Homo sapiens: one gene and its partners. The protein of the gene in region 3 interacts with the protein of the main gene of each other region in a pairwise test. Each region holds a gene or a part of one and is shown on either strand. Other genes may lie near its edges. The genes, in order: NOA1, APOC4, NFU1 and COIL.

Region 1 (4,930 bases), on a different chromosome or scaffold from region 3:
GTGGGTGAATCCCTTGAGCTCAAGTTTGAGACCAGCCTGGGAAACATGGCAAAACCCTGTCTCTATAAAAAATACAAAAATTAGCTGGGTGTGGTGATGTGTGCCTGTAGTCCCGACTACTTGCGGGGCTGGGGTGGGATGATCATTGGAGCCCAGGAGGTTGAGGCCACAGTGAGCCGTGACTGTACCACTGCACTCCAGTCTGGGCAACAGAGAGAGATGCTGTTTCAAAAAAAAAAAACAAAAAAACAAAAAAACAAAAAACCAACCCCAAAAGCAAAAAACCAACAACCTCCCAAAACGAAATATATAAGGGTTCTAAGTGTGTAAGGCAAAATTTCTAACAAAGTATGAGCAAACACAAAACCCAAGAAATGTGCTATAGTAATGGCACACAGTTGTATTGTGTTGTTGGACATATCCATATCCATGTTTCATTTTCCTTTTTCTCTTCACTTTAGCAAAATGGAGAGCAATTCTATAGACACTCCAAAATCCCTAGATGCTATATAAACGAATACCAAACAAAAACGTGTATGCATAAAAACACACATATCATGGTATACAAAGTGTGGAATTAATTTAACGCCTATAACCCTGTACCTAAAGGTTTGACTTTATCCCATAGGTTTGACTCTATCCCATAGAATAGGGATAGTATCTTGTCTTAAATGCCAAGCTGTGTAGGGTACTCAATTGAAAACGTAAGTTTTCAAGACCTAGCACTTTTTTGGGGGGATGAGGGAGTAGGGCATTTCTTTTCCCCAAGTTTTTTTTTTTTTTTTGATATGGAGTCTCGCCCCATCACCCAGGCTGGAGTGCAGTGGTGCAATTTCAGCTCACTGCAGCCTCCGCCTCCCAGGTTTAAGTGATCTTCCTGCCTCAGCCTCTCTAGTAGCTGGGATTACAAGTGTGTGCCACCACGCCCAGCTAATTTTTGTATTTTTAGTAGAGATGGGGTTTCACCACGTTGACCAGGCGGGTCTTGATCTCCTGGCCTCAAGTGATCAGCCTGCCTCAGCCTCCCACAGTGCTGGAATTACAGGTGTGAGCCACTGTGCCCAGCCATCCCCAAGTTTTTATTACAGAAATTTTTAAACATAAAAACAAATTAAACCCAATACAATCATGGCTTAGTTATCAACATTTTGTCAGTCGTGTTCATACATCTGCTTCCTTAAAGTGAATCCCAATATTTTAAAATCATTTTTTAATAGTACAGACTTTTCTTACCTGCAGGAAATCTATGCGGCCTATAGCACCCAAAAACAGAACCATTCCTGGTTTAAGCACAAAAGTTCTTGGAACAATGGACTGTGTTGGCAAAACAATATTTACTTCTTTTTCTGTTAGAAGATTTAAAATCTGTGAAGCAAATGGCAGATTTTTAAGAAAATACTTTTATTGAAAATATGATATATTATGATTTACCCGTAAAATAAAAAGTGATGAAAAATATGCCAGACTTCAAAATAAACCAAATTATGTCAGAGTTTGCTATGCATCAAATTTATATAGATTCTTCCTGTCTAAATTAATTTCAATCTGATGGCTCTACCCTTGTTTTACAACTTAATCTACAGTAATGGCAAAATAACTTTATAGGTGTATGAGACTTTCCTATGTCAGCAGCATTCCCTAAATGTCAAAATTAATGTGAACCTGAAAACATGTTGATTCAATACCAAGATAGAAAATATATGCTCTCCTTATCAAGGCTTGTGGGCAGTAGCAATTTCCGCTTAAAGTAATGGTATACGTGACCTTATGTCCTAGTGGTAAGTATGCATGCATTAAATGCAAAATGGTCACCCCATTCTAGGAGCAAGTAAAGTGGCTGAAGAACCTCTTTCTAAATTCTGGTCTTCAATTTCCTTATTTCTCCCAAATATTCAGCAGAGAATGAGAAAAAGTTATAAATCCCCTATGCTTATAACACAGAGGATTTATAATTTATCCCTATGATTTATAATAAATCCCTTCTAAGGATGACAAGTTCCTAGAGAGACTAGAGAAAAATAGAAAAGGAAAGACAGAAGTACAAGATTCTGCAAAGATTTAAGGAATCAAAATCTGGTTAAAAAAGAATAAAGAAGGTACAAATTGGACACAAAACTTGTAAACTTCTTTCTTAACAAGAGGCTGGGCGCGGTGGCTCACGCCTGTAATCCCAGCACTTTGGGAGGCTAAGGCGGGCAGATCACCTGAGGTCAGGAGTTTGAGACCAGCCTGAACAACATGGAGAAAGCCCATCTCTATTAAAAATACAAAATTAGCCGGGCGTGGTGGCGTGCACCTGTAATCCCAGCTACTCGGGAGGCTGAGGCAGGAGAATCACTTGAATCCGGGAGGCGGAGGTTGTGGTGAGCCGAGATTGCACCACTGCCCTCCAGCCTGGGCCATAGAGCAAGACTCCGTCTCAAAGGAAAAAAAGAGAATAACAAGAAAATAAAAAATAGAAATGATACATAGCAGCTCACAAAAAAATAATAAGGGGGCTGCAGATAGTTTTCTTCATTATTTGTGTTTGAAAAGGCACATTAAAAGCCATTTGCAGGTCAGCCATGGTGGCTCATGCCTGTAATCCCAGGACTTTCAGAGGCAGCGGCAGGCAGATCACTTGAGCTCAGGAGTTTTTTTCTTTTTTTGAGACGGAGTCTTGCTCTGTCACCCAGGCTGGAGTGCAATGGTGTGATCTTGGCTCACTGCAACTTCTGCCTCCCGGGTTCAAGCAATTCTCCTGTCTCAGTCTCCCAAGTAGCTGAGATTACAGACGTGCGCCACCATGCTTGGCTAATTTTTTTGGTATTTTTAGTAGAGACGGGGTTTTGTCATGTTGGCCAGGCTGGTCTCGAACTCCTGACCTCAAGTGATCCACTTACCTTGGTCTTCCAAAGTGCTGGGATTACAGGTATGCACCATTGTGCCCAGCTGAGCTCAGGAGTTTGAGACCAGTCTGGGCAACACGGCAAAACCTCACCTCTATGAAAAATACAAAAATTAGCTGGGGTGGCGTGTGTCTGTAGTTCCCAGCTACCCTGGAGGCTGAGGTGGAGGATTGCTTGAGCCAGGGAGGCAGAAGTTACAGTGGGCCAAGATTCCACCACTGCACTCCAGCCTAGACCAGACTGGGCAACATAGCGAGGTCCTGTCTCTACAAAAACTAAACAATTAGTTGGGCATGGTGGTATGTACCTGTGGCCCTAGCTACTTGGGAGGCTGAAGTGGGAGAATTGGTTGAGCCCAGGACTTTGAAGTTACTTGATCACGCCACTGCATTCCAGCCTGGGCAACAGGGGAAACCTTGTCTCTCTTTTTTGTTGAGACAGGGTTTCACTCTGTTGCCCAGGCTGGGCTGCAGTGGCATGATCTCGGCTCACTGCAACCTCTGCCTCCCAATAAGTGTATCAAGTGATTCTTGTGCCTCAGCCTCCTCAATAGCTGGGATTACAGGCATGTACCACCATGCCCAGCTAATTTTTTGTATTTTTAGTAGAGATACAGTTTTGGCATGTTGCCCAGGCTGGTCTCAAACTCCTGGGCTCAAGCAATCCTCCCACCTCGGCCTCCCAAAGTGCTGGGACTACAGGTGTGAGGCACTGTGCACAGCCTGAGTCTTAATACTTTCATTTCACAACAGAGATCCTTGGTTCAGTCTGGGAAACCCTGGTTTAAGACATCAAATAAGTTTATCTGTAAACTAACAGAGAAGCAAACTACCAGTGCTGACAGACGTTTATATCTAAAAATTTGGGGTTCTCATTCTGCTGTCTAGAGTATTTTGCAAATTCTTGCCTTTCTGACACAACTATTTAATAGAGGATATATGACTGAAGTAACTGCTATGCCTGATCTAATAGCATCTGAAAGGGAAGAATTAGTCTGGGCGTAGTGGCTCCCATCCACAATCCTAGCACTTTGGGAGGCTGAAGTGGGTGGATTACCTGAGGTGAGGGGTTTGAGACCAGCCTGGCCAACATGGCGAAACCCTGTCTCTATTAAAAATACAAAAAGTAGCTGGGTGTGGTGGTACATGCCTCTAATACCAGCTACTCGAGAGGCTGAGGCAGGACAATCGCTTGAACCCAGGCGGCAGAGGTTGCAGTGAGCCAAGATCATTGCGCCACTGCACTCCAGCCTGGGCAAGAGAGTCAGACTCCATCTCAAAAAAAAAAAAAAAAAAAAAAAAAAGTATGGTGGGGGAAGAATTAGTTCATTAAGCTAAAGTGACAGAATATTATTAGAAAGCAGCTCTGAACTTTTGGACTGCTAAGGAAGAAAAGATGGCATGAGCAATTATTCCAGGAGAGCAATAAAATTTAAAAGGTGTGTATGATTCAATGACAGGGGACACCAAATAGAATACAATTCTGAGAATGTAACTATAAGTGTTCCTGATGAGGCCAAGAAAAGTACCTAAGAAACCAATGTGGTTTTGTAGGGAGATACAGAGATAATTAGAAAATCGGAAACTGGTCAGTAACCAGATTCGAAGGAAATGATTAATGAATCTGTTGTGAGGCTGTATCCTGGATGCACATTTGAGTCAATCAATGATCTGAATGAAGATCCAAACTGCAAATATAAAAAGTAATGAGATTGAATGAATATTTAACAGAGTAAGATATAGGCTGAATTTAACAAGACAAAGTCAAAGTTACCTATGAGGCCCAAAGTTGTCCATGAGCAATTGGATAAAAGAGAGGCATAGGGACAAGACAGGTGGAGTTAATGCTATTCTTTTTTTTTTTTTTTTGAGACAGAGTCTTGCTCTGTCACCCAGACTGGAGTGCAGTGGCACGATCTCAGCTCACTGCAAGCTCCGCCTCCCGGGTTCACACCATTCTCCTGCCTCAGCCTCCCGAGTAGCTGGGACTACAGGTGCCCACTACCTCCTGGCTAATTTTTTGTATTTTTAGTACAGACAGGG
Region 2 (5,497 bases), on a different chromosome or scaffold from region 3:
AGGGTGTTATTCCTTGATACCCTTCCCGACCTCCCTACTCTTCCTTCCCCATCAGGTGTCACCTCTTCTACTCATTGATTCCTGGGAGGCAGTGGGGTGGGTTTTTTTCTGGCCACACTGGGGAAGGATCCAGACAGGGACACAGGTGAGACTTTATTTATTGGAGAAGTATGAACTTTTTTTTTTCTTTTTGTTTTACCCCCAAGAGATCTCGCTGTGTTGCCCAGGCTGGTCTCGAACTCCTGGGCTCAAGCCATCATCCTACCTCAGCCTCCTGAGTAGCTGGGACTACAGGCACCCGCCACAACCACACCTGGCTTTTATGAACATTTTAACCCTGGTCCTTGTCCCCACAGACAAGCCTGGGGCACAGGCTGTGGGTCTTCTTCAAGAGGCTGTCTTTGGATTCGAGGAACCAGGCCTTGGTGAGCGGACCCAGGTCCCTCAGGTGGTCGTCATAGTAGGTCTGCATGAAGCCCCGGAAGGTGCTCGGGCTCCTACAGGAGAGAGGACATCACAGTGGAGGCCCCAGCTCTCCCCAGGTGTTCTCTGCCCCATTTATCCGCTCCTCTCTGTGACCTAGGAGTTCCTGCTCTCAGCTCTAACCCTCCACTCCTCCCAGACCTAGGGGTCACAGCCCCACTCCCACCCTTTCCTCCTCCCTGAGACTCAGGGGTCCAGGCCCCAGCCCCTCCTCCCTCAGACCCAGGAGTCCCCTCCCACCACCCAGCCCAGCACACCCTCACCAGAACCATTGCCACCCGTCTCTGGTCCTGTTCACCACTGTCTCCAGCAGCTCCTTCATCCTGCCCCTCACCAGGCTCCAGCGACTCATCTTTAGCTTTGGTGGGGGGCTCAGGGTTCCTTCCTGGGCCTCTGGCTGGCATGCTAGGTGGAACCAGAGGGCAACTTGGGTAGGCTGGGACCCTAGAATCCCCTTCTCCCTTTCCCTCCATGCTCATCCTGTGTCGCTCCCGGTGGCCCAGGGGCAGCCCCCTGCCAGTCCTCTTGCCTCCTGCCTTTACCCTTATGTGTCCCCTGACCGCTAACCCCTCTTTAACCATCAGCCATCTCTTTTTTTTTTTCTTTTTTCTTTTTTTTTATGAGACAGAGTCAGTCTCTTGCTCTGTTGCCCAGGGTGGAGTGCAGTGTCATGATCTCGTCTCATTGCAACCTCCACCTCCTGGATTCAGGCAATTTTCCTGCCTCAGCCTCCCGAGTAGCAGGGATTACAGGCATCTGCCATCATGCCCGGCTAATTTTTGTATTTTTAGAAGAGATGGGGTTTTGCCATGTTGGGGCCTCGAACTCCTGACCTCAAGTGATCCACCCACCTCGGGCTCCCAAAATGCTGGGATTACAGATGTGAGCCACCCCGTCCGGCTGGGCCATCTCTTCACCTTGTGTCAGTAGTCCCTCCTGTCACCCTGTCTGCCTGTGGTTCCCCTCTAATGGCCTCTCTAATTGCCATCCTCTGATGCCTCCCTTCACCACCTGATTTTGCTGCCCAGGAACTACCCCCTTCTCCCTTCGTTCTCCTGTGACCCCCACCCTGTCTGAGCTACCTCTGTGGACAGTGGAGGGAGAGCAGGAGGTGACTTTCTGCCCCCAGGGGCAGACATTGGCTTAGCCTTGCTGTCAGTTCCTCTTTCCGGGCCAGACCTTCTACCCACGCATCTGGACAAAGCCTCGCCTACAGAGACCAGCCGTCACGCGGGGGCCACATGTAGCTAGCTGTGTGCCTTGGCCGGTGACTTATCCTGTCTCCCCAGGACTGTTTCTCCTTTTGTAGAACGGGGTAATAATATCTACCTCAGGGTTATCGTGAGAATTAAGAGTTACTACATACGATGCACATGGAATGGTGCCTTGCACATTGTCTACATACGTGTTAAATTTTTTTTTTTTTTCAGACGGAGTCTCGCTCTGTCACCCAGGTTGGAATGCAGTGGCGCGATCTCGGCTCACTGCAACCTCTGCCTCCCGGGTTCAAGTGATTCTCCGGCCTCAGCCTCCCGAGTAGCTGGGACTACAGGCGCATGCCACCATGCATGGCTAATTTTTTGTATTTTTAGTAGAGATGGGTTTTTACCCATCTGTTAGCCAGGATGATCTCAAATCTCCTGACCTTGCGATCCACCCGCCTCGGCCTCCGAAAGTGCTGGGATTACAGGCATGAGCCACCGTGCCTGGCCCTGTATTAAAAATTTAAATTTCTACTGGATAATGCTGATCTAGAATATGATCCCATTTTAACATAAAGTACATGGCCGGGCGTGGTGGCTCATGCCTGTAATCCCAGCACTTTGGGAGGCCAAGGCGGGCGGATCACCTGAGGTCAGGATTTCAAGACCAGCCTGGGCAACATGGCAAAACCCTGTCTCTACCAAAAATATAAAAAAATTAGCCAGGCATTGGCCAGGCGCAGTGGCTCACGCCTATAATCCTAGCACTTTGGAAGGCCGAGGCAGGCGGATCACGAGGTCAGGATATGGAGACCATCCTGGCTAACACGGCGAAACCCCGTCTCTAGTAAAAATACAAAAAATTAGCCAGGCGTGGTGGTGGGCTCCTGTAGTCCCAGCTACTCGGGAGGCTGAGGCAGGAGAATGGCGTGAACCCGGGAGGCGGACGTTGCAGTGAGCCAAGATCACGCCACTGCACTCCAGCCTGGGTAACAGAGCGAGACTCCGTCTCAAAAAAAAAAAATTAGCCAGGCATGGTGGCGTGTGTCTGTAGTCCCAAATACTCTGAAGACTGAGGCAGGAGAATCCCTTGAAACGGGTAGGCGGATGATGCAGTGAGCCAAGATCGCACCACTGCTACCACTGCACTCCAGCCTGGGTGACAGAGTGAGACTCCGTCTCAAAAAAAAAAAAAAAAATGCATATGCAAAACACAGACGTACACACCAGCACACACTCACCCCCTCACACATGTCCACACACTCAAATATTTTGCACACACATACCCCACAGAGAGACAGGTGCACACAAATACACATATGCACACAGACATGCACTTTTTTACCACGACTGCATACTCCCACTTCCACGCACGCACGTGCACACACACAGATGATCCCAGTTTGTACCAATGTGACATTCACACTTCACTCTCAGCCACCGACACACACACTCCCCGACACGCACATGCATACGCACGCCATGAAACGCACACACTCCGTACTCATGTCTCACGTGGCTACAGAGCCACAGGACACACAGCCACACTCACACCCACCAGGTGTGGGCCCCACATCCCTCCACCCACTTCTTCTCACCCCCAATGCAGGCCAGGACCAGCACGCAGAGGCACAGGGCAGGCAGGGCCTGGAGCCTGTTTCTGAGGAGGGACATTTCTGGGGGTTCCGTGCCTCTGTCCCTCTGTGCTCAACTCTGCGGGCCGGGGGAGGGGAGGCTGCACAGAGCAGGGCCCTCCCCCGGCCACCTCCCCGCTTGGCAGAGACTTCAGAGAGCAGGGCCCAGGTGACAGTGGCAATCAGAGGTCATGCCTCTGTGGGCCTCCCTCCTTCTCACCCTCCCACACAGTGCCCTGAGAGAAGACAGAGGCTCTTGAGCCTCCTGCACTGAGGCAGGTTCAAATCCTGTCTCCACCTCCCATGACAGCCTCATTTGCTGGCCTCAGTTTCCTCCTCCATAAAGTGGGAGGCACAGTACATATTTCAGTATATTACTTGAACAAATACAAAGAAAGGCGCAGTGGCTCACGCCTGTAATCCCAGCACTTTGGGAGGCCGAGGTGGGCAGATCATATGAGGCCAGGAGTTTGAGACCAACCTGGCCAACATGGTGAAAAACCCTGTCCCTACTAAAAATACAAAAATTAGCCAGAAGTAGTGATGCGTGCCTGTAATCCCAGCTACTTGGGAGGCTGAGGCAGGAGAATGGCTTGAACCCGGGAAGTGAAGGCTGCAGTGAGCCGCGATCACACCACTGCACTCCAGCCTGGGTGACAGAGCAAGACTCTGTCTTGAAACAAAACAAAACAAAAAATGAAGAAAGCTCTTACCGTGGAGACTGGCAATATAGGTGCTCAAAGATCATTGCTGTTGGCCAGGCGCGGTGGCTCATGCCTGTAACCCCAACACTTTGGGAGGCCGAGGCAGGCGGATCACGAGGTCAGGAGATTGAGACCATCTTGGCTAACACGGTGAAACCCCATCTCTACTAAAAATATGAAAAATTAGCCAGGCGTGGTGGCAGGCGCCTGTAGTCCTAGCTACTCGGGAGGCTGAGGCAGGAGAATGGCGTGAACCTGGGAGGTGGAGCTTGCATTGAGCCGAGATCGCGCCACTGCAGTCCAGCCTGGGCGAAAGAGCAAGACTCCGTCTCAGAAAAAAAAAAAAGATCATTGCTGTTATTATTATCTTGTGTCTAATTTCTCCTAGTCACTGGGCTGCAGGGCCAGGCTTGTGGTAGGGCCTCAATAGGGCCCAAGGGTTGATGAGAGGAAATAGCAACACAGTCTCATGTCTCCAGCCTCTGTTTCTTCCTAGGTGGGCTCGAGCCCGATCACTTCCAAGCATTCCTTGAGTTCTCAATTCCAACTCTTTCTCCTCTGGGTGACTCTGGCTTCAGATGGACCTGGGCTTCGAATCCCTCACTTCTTCACCGTGTGACCTGGGCAAATACGTTTTCTTTTCTGGGGCTCAGTTTGTTCAACTGTAACACGGGGTTGATAGGGAGCACCTGCCTCCCAGTGTCCTCATGCAGGACGGCTGAGGCCTATGCAGGAGAGCTGCAGGTGCACATAGTAGGAGGTCATCAACATCAGGCCCAGGGCCAGGGCGGTGGCTCCCACCTGTAATCCCAGCACTTTGGGAGGCCGAGGCAGGCGGCTCACTTGAGGTCAGGAGTTCAAGACCAGCCTGGCCAACGTAGTGAAACCCCGTCTCTACTAAAAATACAAAAATTAGCCGGGTGTGGTGGAGCGAGACCTTGTCTCAAAAACAATAACAACAACAAAAACCAACAAAAAACCCACATCAGGCTCGGTCCCAGTGCCAGAAATAGAGCATTTTTCTCCTGAAGGACCCAGCTGCACCCCAGGGCACATGGCTCAGGGGACTATGGACTGGATTCTTTTTTTTTTTTTTGAGACAGAGTCTGGCTCTGTCGCCCAGGCTGGAGTGCTGTGGCGCGATCTCGGCTCACTGCAAGCTCCGCCTCCCAGGTTCACGCCATTCTCCTGCCTCAGCCTCCCGAGTAGCTGGGACTACAGGCACCCGCCACCACGCCCAGCTAATTTTTTGTATTTTTAGTAGAGACGGGGTTTCACCGTGTTAGCCAGGATGGTCTCGATCTCCTGACCTCGTGATCCGCCCGCCTCGGCCTCCCAAAGTGCTGGGATTACAGGCTTGAGCCACTGCGCCTGGCCTGGACTGGATTCTTTTGTCTACGCTTGCCAGACGAAATAGAGGAGGCCCAATTACATTTGAATTTCAAATCAACAGTGCATGACGTTTTAGTATAAA
Region 3 (5,240 bases):
ACAGACTCTCGCTCTGTCACCCAGGTTGGAGTGCAATGGCACGATCCCAGCTCACTGCAACCTCCGCCTCCCAGGTTCAAGGGATTTTCGTGCCTCATCCTCCTGAGTAGCTGGGATTACAGGCACATGCCACCTTGCCTGGCTAATTGTTGTATTTTTAGTAGAGACAAGGTTTCACCATTGGCCAGGCTGGTCTCGAATTCCTTACCTCAAGTGATCCACCCACCTCAGCCTCCCAAAGTGTTGGGATTACAGGCATGAGCCACTGCGCCAGGCCAATTTCCTCTCTTCTAATAAACTAATCCTCCATCCAATTCAGCCACTTATTTCATGGCCACATACAAGATCTGCCATTACTGGCATCTCATCCACGATGTCAATTTCCTGTAGCTTCAACTAAAGGGCAGGTTAAGTTGCCTTGCTTATGAAGCAATTCCCAGTGTCTAAATTAAATTCATACATGATATCTCAAGGAATGAATTCTCCAACCCTACTATTTGGTTCAGTGAACCAAAGGATAAAAGTAAAAACTTCAATTCCCAGCACTCACAACTGCTAGAGTTCTTCCTGTTTCCATCACTATCTTAATCTCCTTAATTTGAGGGACTAGAATTCCAGAGATGCAATGCATCACAACTATTTTTCCCATCTTTCCTTTCCCTGTATTTTCTGTTAACTGCAGTCTCTGAATTACTGTAGAAAAATGAGAGAGGAGGCTAAATCACTCTTTTGGCTACCTGAAAAAGCAGTACCCCTAGAGTACAAAAATAATGATGCACACTTCTGGCATGGTACAGATTTTGGATCTCTGAGTCAGAAGCCAGTGGGAGGACCAAAGCAGCTTCTTCTCTTTTCTTCAGCAATTCTGATTGATAAGGTAAAGGCTGGGCATGCTGAGGCAGTTTTTCTAATTTGGCCATCTCCATCTTAACCAATAGAAACTGTGTCCAGATTCTGGGAGTTAGTTTTCAAGTTTTTCACCTTTTTTTTTTTTTTTTTTTTTTTTTTTTTTGAGATGGAGTCTCGCTCCGTCCCCCAGGCTGGAGTGCAGTGGCGTGATCTCAGCTCACTGCCACCTCCGCCTCCCGGGTTCAAGCAGTTCTCCTGCCTCAGCCTCCTAAGTAGCTGGGATTACAGGCGCGTGCCTCCGCGCCCGGCTAATTTTTGTATTTTTAGTGGAGACGGGGTTTCACCATGTTGTTCAGGCTGGTCTCAAACTCCTGACCTCGTGATCTGCCCACCTCGGCCTCCCAAAGTGCTGGGATTATAGGCGTTAGCCACCATACCCGGACATTTTTGATTTCTTTTTTTTGGTCTTAAGCAGTTCTTTGCTACTTAATTGGGGGCTAGTAGCCAGATACCATTTTTAAAACAGACTTGTTTAGCTGTTTCTTAAGCTAAAAACTTCAGTAAAAATAGTTTTAGATATTTCACAAAAAGCTATTTTAGAATATTCTAAAAAGCATTCTGTTTCTTCCTGTATGGAAAAAAGTAAATAAATTAGATGGGGGGAAATGTATTTTAAACTCCTTCACACATATGCAAAGAAAGAGCCATGGGAAATGAGGGACAAAAATAAAAATATCCTTGGATAAAATCCACGTGTACAGAAGATGATTCAAGAGGTTATAAATAACTCATATGAGGTAAAGCAAACATGCAATATTTATATATCATTCTCTGAAGAGCATATTTTATTAATCTTCAAGTTCCTCAGCATATTAATAATAAAAACTTGATATATATTATCAACAAGTCTGACTGTTATGCCCAAAGAAAATCCAGATTATTTTAAGGTGAGTTTGCTTCTTTTTCATCTGATTCATCATCCATAACCTAAAACCAAAAAACAAAGACAATTTAAGAATTAAGAAAATGATTAGATTTTGCTGTTTTCCTGATTTTAATATTACTTCTTTACCTGATACACTCTATAATGAGGCATGACAAGCCAGTAAGAATAAATCTATCAACAGCCCCAAAGAACAAGGTTTGAATCATAACCCGGTATCCTAAAAACATAAAAGCAACCCCATCTCTACTGAAAATACAAAAAATTAGCCAGGCGGGCGCCTGTAGTCCCAGCTACTCGGGAGGCTGAGGCAGGAGGATGGCGTGAACCTGGGAAGCAGAGCTTGCAGTGAGCCGAGATCGCGCCACTGCACTCCAGCGTGGGCAACACAGCGAGACTCTGTCTCAAAAAAAAAATAAAATAAAATAAAAGCAAATTAAATATTTGGAAATTAATTAAAGCATTGATCACTTCTCCTTGTCTCAAAGAGGCTACCCATAGCAGAGTCTCAGCTGGGCAGAAAAGACTATAAATAATTAACTGGGGCCAGGCGCGGTGGCTCACGCCTGTAATCCCAGCACTTTGGGAGGCTGAGGCAGGCAGATCATGAGGGCAGAAGATCAAGACCATCCTGGCTAACACAGTGAAACCCCGTCTCTACTAAAAATACAAAAAATTAGCCGGTCGTGGTGGTGGGCGCCTGTAGTCCCAGGTACCCGGGAGACTAAGGCAGGAGAATGGCATGAACTGGGGAGGTGGAGGTTGCAGTGAGCCTAGTGCCTGGTGATAGAGCACTCCAGCTTGGTGATAGAGCAAGACTCCGTCTCAAAAAAAAAAAAACAATTTAACTGGTATTCTCTAGCCATAAGACTAATGTAAATGACTTTTTCTTTTTTTCAAAACCATCTTATTTACTTAAATATATTCTGTGAAGCTATACCAAATTGTTATTTTAAAAACATTTATTTTTATTAAAATGAATCCCCAAGGAAAGTGAAAAACAAAACAAAACAAAAAAACCCCACCATATTAGGAACTAATTATTTTAGTCTTACTGAGATAAAAGATCATTTTAAGCCTCAGGAAAATGTTACAACAGCTATTATCTTTCCATGAGTTAATGTATTACTAAGATAACAGACTAACTCCATTGGAGAAGGAAAAAGTTACATAAACCTAAGAATGTTTTTTTCTCCTCACCACACCTACTACAATTAGATGCCAATTCAAGTTTCTAATCTGAAGGCCAATTCATCACCCTACCCTGGACAATTGAATAAAAATGTTCCTCAGTCAATCCACCAAAGTATCAACTAACATAATTTTTTAAGGCATATAGATGATAATGGAACAAAGTAAGGTTTTTTTTTTTAAAAAAAATCTAGGCCAGGCACAGTGGCTCATGCCTGTAATCCCAGCACTTTGGGAGGCTGAGGCAGGTGGATCACCTGAGGTCAAGAGTTCAAGACCAGCCCGGTCAACATGGCGAAACCCCCATCTCTACTAAAAATATAAAAATTAGCCAGGCGTGGTGGCGCGCGCCTGTAATCCCAGCTACCTGGGAAGCTAAGGCAGGAGAATCATTTGAACTCGGGAGGTGGAGGCTGCAGTGAGCCAAGATCAAGCCATTGTACTCCAGCCTGGGCAACAAGAGTGAAACTACGTCTCAAAAAAAAAAAAAAAAAAAATCCAGATTCTGGCTCTGATCTGAGACAATCAATAGAAAAAGAATTCTTTCATAGGCTGTCTTTTTGGTTGAGTAAAAATTGGTATTTATTCCCAAGAAATTAATATTTTACATCCAATTTCAACAATACCCAATCCAAAAAATTTTGTCAACCAACTCATATTTTAGGCAGAATTATTCCTTAATTTGGAATAATATTCCCAAATACTTAATACAAAGCATGTATAGGACATTTGTAAGGCACACAGCTAGTTGTTGCAGAGGAACACAAAGACTTGGATATGATTTCAAGTCTCTTAGGGAGCTTCCACGTAAACATAAAGCTAAAACAGATACAGAAAGCTACATAAACATAAAGCAAAAACAGAAGCTTTGGACCTGTCAAAGAAGAACTTAATTCCAAGTGGGGGATGGATAAAAACTTCAAAGAGAAGATGTCATGTACTGGACCAAAACGATGGTGTGGAGGCTAAAGCAACTCCATCTTGGATGCTAATCTGCCACATTGACTACCCTCAGTTCTAGGAATGCCTCTAAGTTTTCTACTTAATTCTGCCTTTAGGTCAAAATAATCTTGATGTTATCCTAAACAAACACATACTTAGCATAAATCTTGCCCTTAAGCAAATTATAGGCTATTAGGCAAATAGCATTCTTGCCTTTTCCAGAGGGGCTGACTTCAATTGTCCTACACATATCTTCTGAAGCATGTATACCCATTCCTCCTGGTATATAAGCCCTGAGTCTAGCGGGTAACAATGCAGGAATCCATCATCTTGCAGCTGCCCGATAAATGGCTTCTGTTCCTCAGTCCCTATTAAATGTTTCTTTCTGACCAACTGGATTTGCCAGCCTCTGTCTTCAGCCTCTCAGCTCCCTAAGACTTTGGGGATAGGTCTATATAGACCTGCTCACTGTGGAACAGATGAATTTTAATACTACCCAAGGATGAGTGATTCCCAATGGAGCCCTTAAGGGCACAGAATTACCTGAGGTGGTCAGGCACGGTGGCTCATGCCTGTAATCCTAGCACTCTGGGAGGCCGAGGCGGGCAAATTGCCTGAGCTCAGGAGTTTGAAATCAGCCTGGGCAACATGATGAAACCCCGTCTCTACTAAAATACAAAATACAAAAAATGGTGGCATGTGCCTGTAATCCCAGCTACTCATGAGGCTGAGGGATGGGAACTGCTTCAACCTGGGAGGTGGAGGTTGCAGTGAGCCGAGATAGCGTGTCACTGCACTCCAGCCTGGGCAACAGAACAAGATTCTGTCTCCAAAAAAAAAAAAAAAAAGAATGAATTACCTGAAATTCTGTGGGTTGGAAATTTCTAATTTCCACACATCCCTTCACTCCTTGATAATCTCTCTCCATAAGGCCATGCTTTTTGGTTGAGAATCACTGCAGTGAGACTCATTATTACTGATGACAAGGTGCTGTGTTATACTCCTTAGGTATGTTGGCAAAAAAAAAAATGTTGATATTGTGCTACACGTAAAGCTCTAGAATTCTACTCAGTATAACAACAAACTATGATTTCTTAATGGGCTTCTTGCTTGCATATTTAAGAATACATAGATTAGGCCAGTTGTGTTAATCCTTAATCCCAGCATTTTGGGAGGATCACCTGAGGCCAGGAATTCAAGACCAACTTGGGCAACATAGCAAGACCCCGTCTCTACAAAAAAAAAAAAAAAAAAATTGGTAAATATGATGTAGTAGAGTTCTTCCACTAAAGATTTCTAAATCTCATCTATAAAA
Region 4 (4,930 bases), on a different chromosome or scaffold from region 3:
GCTCAAAGAATTTGTTTTTTACTTTGTAAAATCTTTGTTTTTGCTGGTGTCACTTTGGGGACATTTTCATCCTTTTTGCCACAACCACTTTCCTCATTTATGTCAATAAGTTCACCTCACTGGCAGTGTCAACATTCCTACAGTGAGCTATTTCTTCTACAGACTCTCCTTAAACTCAGTTTGGATGGCACTTTCAGCATTACCACTTTTGTTTCTTTGCTGTGCCTTTATCTTTGTGGGCCAATTCCCTACTTCGATTATACGTGTTGTAAAATGTCATGCAGGTTTATAAGTGAGAGACAAGGAGGCACCACAACTGCATGCTCTGCTCTGTATGTGAACTGAATAACAGATGCACAGTGACCAGTCACTGACGGACTCTGAAAGTACTGACTTGACTGGTAATGGATCATGACGCGTATCTGTTATTTATGTTATATAGTGATATGTGGACTAAAGAGCTAGCAGTACTTCATGCACTTACAGTTAACATATGCAATGTTGCTGGGGGACTAGTATTACTTAACTAAACCAGGGTAACTGAAATATATGTATATCAGAACCACCACATCAAGGACAAGTGACATTGCTATTAGAGAACAGATAAATCCATTTCTTTCTTTCTTTTTTGCTTTTGAGACAGGGTCTTGCTCACTCAGCCTGGAGTGCAGTGACGCAATCATGACTCACTGCAGCCTCGACCTCCTGGGCTCAAGTGATCCTCCCACCTCAGCCTCTCAAGTAGCGAGGACTACAAGCATGTACCACCACACTCAGCTATGTTTTGTTTTTTTTTTTTACGACAGAGTCTCACTATGCTGCCCAGGCTGGTCTTGAACTCCTGGGCTCAAGTGATCCTCCCACCTTCGCCCCCGAAGCCATTTCTTGATGCCCTAAAGAAGAAAAGTTCTAAGTGGATGTCATCACTATTAATCACCTGACAAGCACTGATCAGGCTGTATGCACAGAATTTGACAGTGGACAAACTTTTCTGTCCACCGTTCCTAAGAAAGGGGATTTCTATAAATGAAATCTCATCAGAAGAAAGGTTGGAAACCTGGCCAGGCACGGTGGCTCATGCCTGTAATCCCAGCACTTTGGGAGGCTGAGGTGGGAGGATCACGAGGTCAGGAGATCGAGACCGTCCTGGCTAACACAGTGAAACCCCATCTCTACTAAAAATACAAAAAATTAGCCAGGTGTGGTGGCGGGTGCCTGTAGTCCCAGCTGCTCGGGAGGCTGAGGCAGGAGAATGGCGTGAACCCGGGAGGCGGAGCTTGCACTGAGCCGAGATCGCCCACTGCACTCCAGCCTGGACAACAGAGTGAGACTCCATCTCAAAAAAAAAAGAAAGGTAGGAACCCAGTGTAAGTTATATATAAACATTTACTTAATATCATAAACGAACTTTGTTCAAAAACTCTTTCGACTGATTTCTGTTAGCTGAATCTTTTATTCAATCCCTTATCTAAAAATAAACAGAAGGCCAGGTGCGGTGGTTCATGCCTGTAACCTCAACACTTTGGGAGGCCAAGGTGGGTGGATCACGAGGTCAGGAGATCGAGACCATCCTGGCTAACATGGTAAAACCCCGTCTCTACTAAAAATACAAAAAATTAGCCGGGCATGGCGGCCAGCGCCTGTAGTTCCAGCTACTCGGGAGGCTGAGGCAGGAGGATGGTGCGAACCTGGGAGGCAGAGCTTGCAGTGAGCCAAGATAGCGCCACTGCACTCCAGCCTGGGCGACAGCAACACTCCGTCTCAAAAATAAACAAACAAACAAACAAACAAACAAACAGAAAACAGGCTGGGCACAGTGGCTCACACCTGTAGTCTCAGCACTTTGGGAGGCCAAGGCAGGTGGATTGCTTGAGGCCAAGAATTCAAGACCAACCTGGCCAACATGTCAAAATCCATCTCTACTAAAAATACAAAAATTAGCTGGACATGGTGGTGTGTGCCTGTAGTCCCAACTACTCTGCAAGCTGAGGCATGAGAATCACTTGAACCTGGGAGGCGGAGGCTGCAGTGAGCCAAGATTGTGCCACCACACTCCAGCCTGGGCGATAGAGTGAGACTCTGTCAAAAAAAAAAGGAAAACAATTAATTGCTTTAGGATCTTCTAAAGGAAAAGGAATCTCCCCTGCCCTCTGGCCAGGGACCCCTACAGTACACCCCAAGTTAAGCTACATATTATAAAAGCCCTCTTATTCCACGCATTCAGTTCCAGTACCAGGTGGGGTTCATCAGAGATAAATCCAGCAACCATTTAAAATGATATGTGAAAGTGTATGTATACACACACTTCAGACATTTTGTTTTGACTTAATATACAAAAGTATATTCATTTGACAATCTTTTGAAATAGAGCTGAGTAGGTCTTATGAGTTCACTGAATAGAGCTCTTTTTTTAATAAACCATACCATTGTATTGTCTGCAATTTCCACAATTTACAGTTTGGGGGTTTTTAAAATATTTTTTGAGACTAAGTCTTGCTCTGTCACTCAGTCTGGAAGGCAGTTGCACTATCTCGGCTCACTGCAACCTCCACCTCCCGGGTTCAAGCGATTCTCCTGCCTCAACCTTTCCAGTAGGTGGGATTACAGGCGTGTGCCATGACGCCCGGCTAATTTTTGTATTTTTAGTAGAGACAGGGTTTCACCATGTTGGCCAGGATGGTCTCAAACTCCTGACCTCAAGTGATCCACCAACCTTGGCCTCCCAAAGTGCAGGGATTACAGGTGTGAGCCACCGTGCCCAGCCTGGGTTTTTCTTAAATAAGGCAAGATTGCAAAAATTTGCAAGGCAATCTAAGTGCAGAATCTTCCTCAGTTTTTACAAAATTCCTCCCAATCTTTTATAGCTGACCCACTCATCCATAATTTCATAGCATTTCCTGAGTCAGCATTCAACTTAGGCTTCCTAGGAATAATTCTTTTTATAATCGATTTTCATCAGTTCATATAATCTTTTATGAAATTATATAATTACAGTAATAAGAACTAGCCCAACAGCTTTGGAATATATCCAACATCTCTTATGAGCCCCCAGGGCTAAAGTGTGCTGAAAGAAGTGGGGAGCGCCAGTTATATGGAGGCCAAGGAAGAGAACATCTCCTGTGTATAAAAGCTATTTATAAACCACTGTAGATAGAGCCTACATTTTCAAATTATTTTCTAAAAGACTCACCAGGTAAGGATGAAAGAATTTCTATATCTACTTGCTGGGTCTCTGGATTGTGGCTTAATATTCTTCCTTCCTTTCAAAAATAAAAGTCCAAGTCAAAATCAACATGTAAAACACTGTGAATATACTAAAAACCACTGAATTGTAGACTTTAAAATGGTTAAAATGTTGAATTTTATGTTATGTGAATTTTATCTCAGTTGAAAAATTTAGAAATAAATCCACATATAGAGAAAATAAAAACAGGTGGACTGATAAACACTTTATGTGAATATACAGAAATATCTTTAGAGGCAAAATAAAACATTTAAATCATAAATGGCAGACACTATCTTAAATAACTCGATGAAAGTAAAGATTACACCAGGGAACCAAAAGTGACTGAATAAGGGAAAAGGAGAAAAAAATCACACCAGGCTGATATATTCAAGTGAGCACTGACCATCACAGCATTCATCAGGAGAGACTAGATATATCCTAATGGTGCAGCCTCGGTTCCTGATGCTTTTAGAACCCTTCTAAAACAGTGATCACAACCCCCCAGGAGAAACCAGAAGGCACTTTATCACTGTTAAGATCCCAATTCTCCTTCTCCCAGGTCTCCAGCTGTGGGAGCTGATTTTCTAATGCATCAAGAGGATGCACTGCCCATGCACGTGGGCGATGGGGAGACACATGGTAGCCTCCGGGGGTATATACTGAGAGGCCAAGCAACCAGTTCCTCCTGCCTCTACCTGGAATTTCTGAGCACAGTCAACAGTTTTTTTTAAAACCAGACTCAACAGGGAATCAGGGGCTTGGGAGACTACATTTTTTAGTACAGAATTGAACCAATTTAATTTTTGGAGACAAGGTTAATGAATAAAGCAGATGATCAAGCTGGATAACTGCGTTTGAGGTCAAAGCAAAAAAGTAGGACCAATTTTCATTCTTAAAATGTTTTTGAAAGCAATTTCAAAAATCTTCAAAAAATTTTGCCAACTAAAGTAGGCAAAACACCTTCCAACATTAATAACTATGACAACTAATACCAATTTAATATGCAATTTTTTTTAAGAGTCTCGTTTTGTCACCCAGGCTGGAGTGCAGTGGCATGATCTCAGCTCACTGCAACCCCCACCTACTGCGTTCAAGTGATTCTTGTGCCTCAGTCTCCTGAGTAGCTGGGGCTACAGGTGCACGCCACCATGCCAGGCTCATTTTTATATTTTTAGTAGAGATGGGGTTTTGCCATGTTGGCCAGGCTGGTCTCGAACTCCTGACCTCAAGTGATTCACCTACCTTGGCCTCCCAAAGTGCTGGGATTACAGGCATGAGCCACTGTGCCTGGCCATTAATAAGCAATTTTTAAAAATCAGTATCATCTAGAATTACAATTTATAGAGGTTGTGGGATGTATCAATACAATATTCATTTCCATTTCCTCATATATCACACAATTAAATGTTTTCTATGGTAGGGTGACAAAACACCCTGGTTTGTTCAAGACAGGTCTGTACATCTTTCCAGCATAACTATTAATAGCATCCCTTTGACTCACAAGTATCCTGATTCAGGTGATAAATTACATGATCACCTCATCCATAGGAGATAGTAAGTGCCTAAGAAGATAAAAAACAAAACACCAACGACCTAGAACTAACCCACCAGATCCCTTCATTAACTGATTCTTCCAGCCTGCTTTTGAGGAAAGATTTTTTTTTTTTTTTTTTTTGAGATGGAGTCTCGCTCTGTTACCCAGGC

Evidence for each region.
Region 1: the proteins of NFU1 (region 3) and NOA1 interact in a two-hybrid assay, tested with the Homo sapiens proteins (one large-scale study listed by IntAct).
Region 2: the proteins of NFU1 (region 3) and APOC4 interact in binary tests that used the Homo sapiens proteins (3 or more experiments, as listed by UniProt).
Region 4: the proteins of NFU1 (region 3) and COIL interact in binary tests that used the Homo sapiens proteins (3 or more experiments, as listed by UniProt).

Annotation. Positions count from the first base shown.
Region 1 is NC_000004.12:56,967,151-56,972,080, forward strand, and holds part of NOA1 (nitric oxide-associated protein 1), read right to left. Parts: intron 1,366-4,930; coding exon 1,234-1,365; intron 1-1,233. UniProt on the Homo sapiens protein: Involved in regulation of mitochondrial protein translation and respiration. Plays a role in mitochondria-mediated cell death. May act as a scaffolding protein or stabilizer of respiratory chain supercomplexes. Binds GTP.
Region 2 is NC_000019.10:44,940,140-44,945,636, reverse strand, and holds APOC4 (apolipoprotein C-IV precursor), read right to left. Parts: upstream 3,401-5,497; 5' UTR 3,360-3,400; coding exon 3,284-3,359; intron 889-3,283; coding exon 747-888; intron 498-746; coding exon 332-497; 3' UTR 141-331; downstream 1-140. UniProt on the Homo sapiens protein: May participate in lipoprotein metabolism.
Region 3 is NC_000002.12:69,394,455-69,399,694, forward strand, and holds the end of NFU1 (NFU1 iron-sulfur cluster scaffold homolog, mitochondrial), read right to left. Parts: intron 1,837-5,240; coding exon 1,792-1,836; 3' UTR 1,672-1,791; downstream 1-1,671. UniProt on the Homo sapiens protein: Iron-sulfur cluster scaffold protein which can assemble [4Fe-4S] clusters and deliver them to target proteins.
Region 4 is NC_000017.11:56,943,252-56,948,181, forward strand, and holds part of COIL (coilin), read right to left. Parts: intron 3,261-4,930; coding exon 3,191-3,260; intron 1-3,190. UniProt on the Homo sapiens protein: Component of nuclear coiled bodies, also known as Cajal bodies or CBs, which are involved in the modification and assembly of nucleoplasmic snRNPs.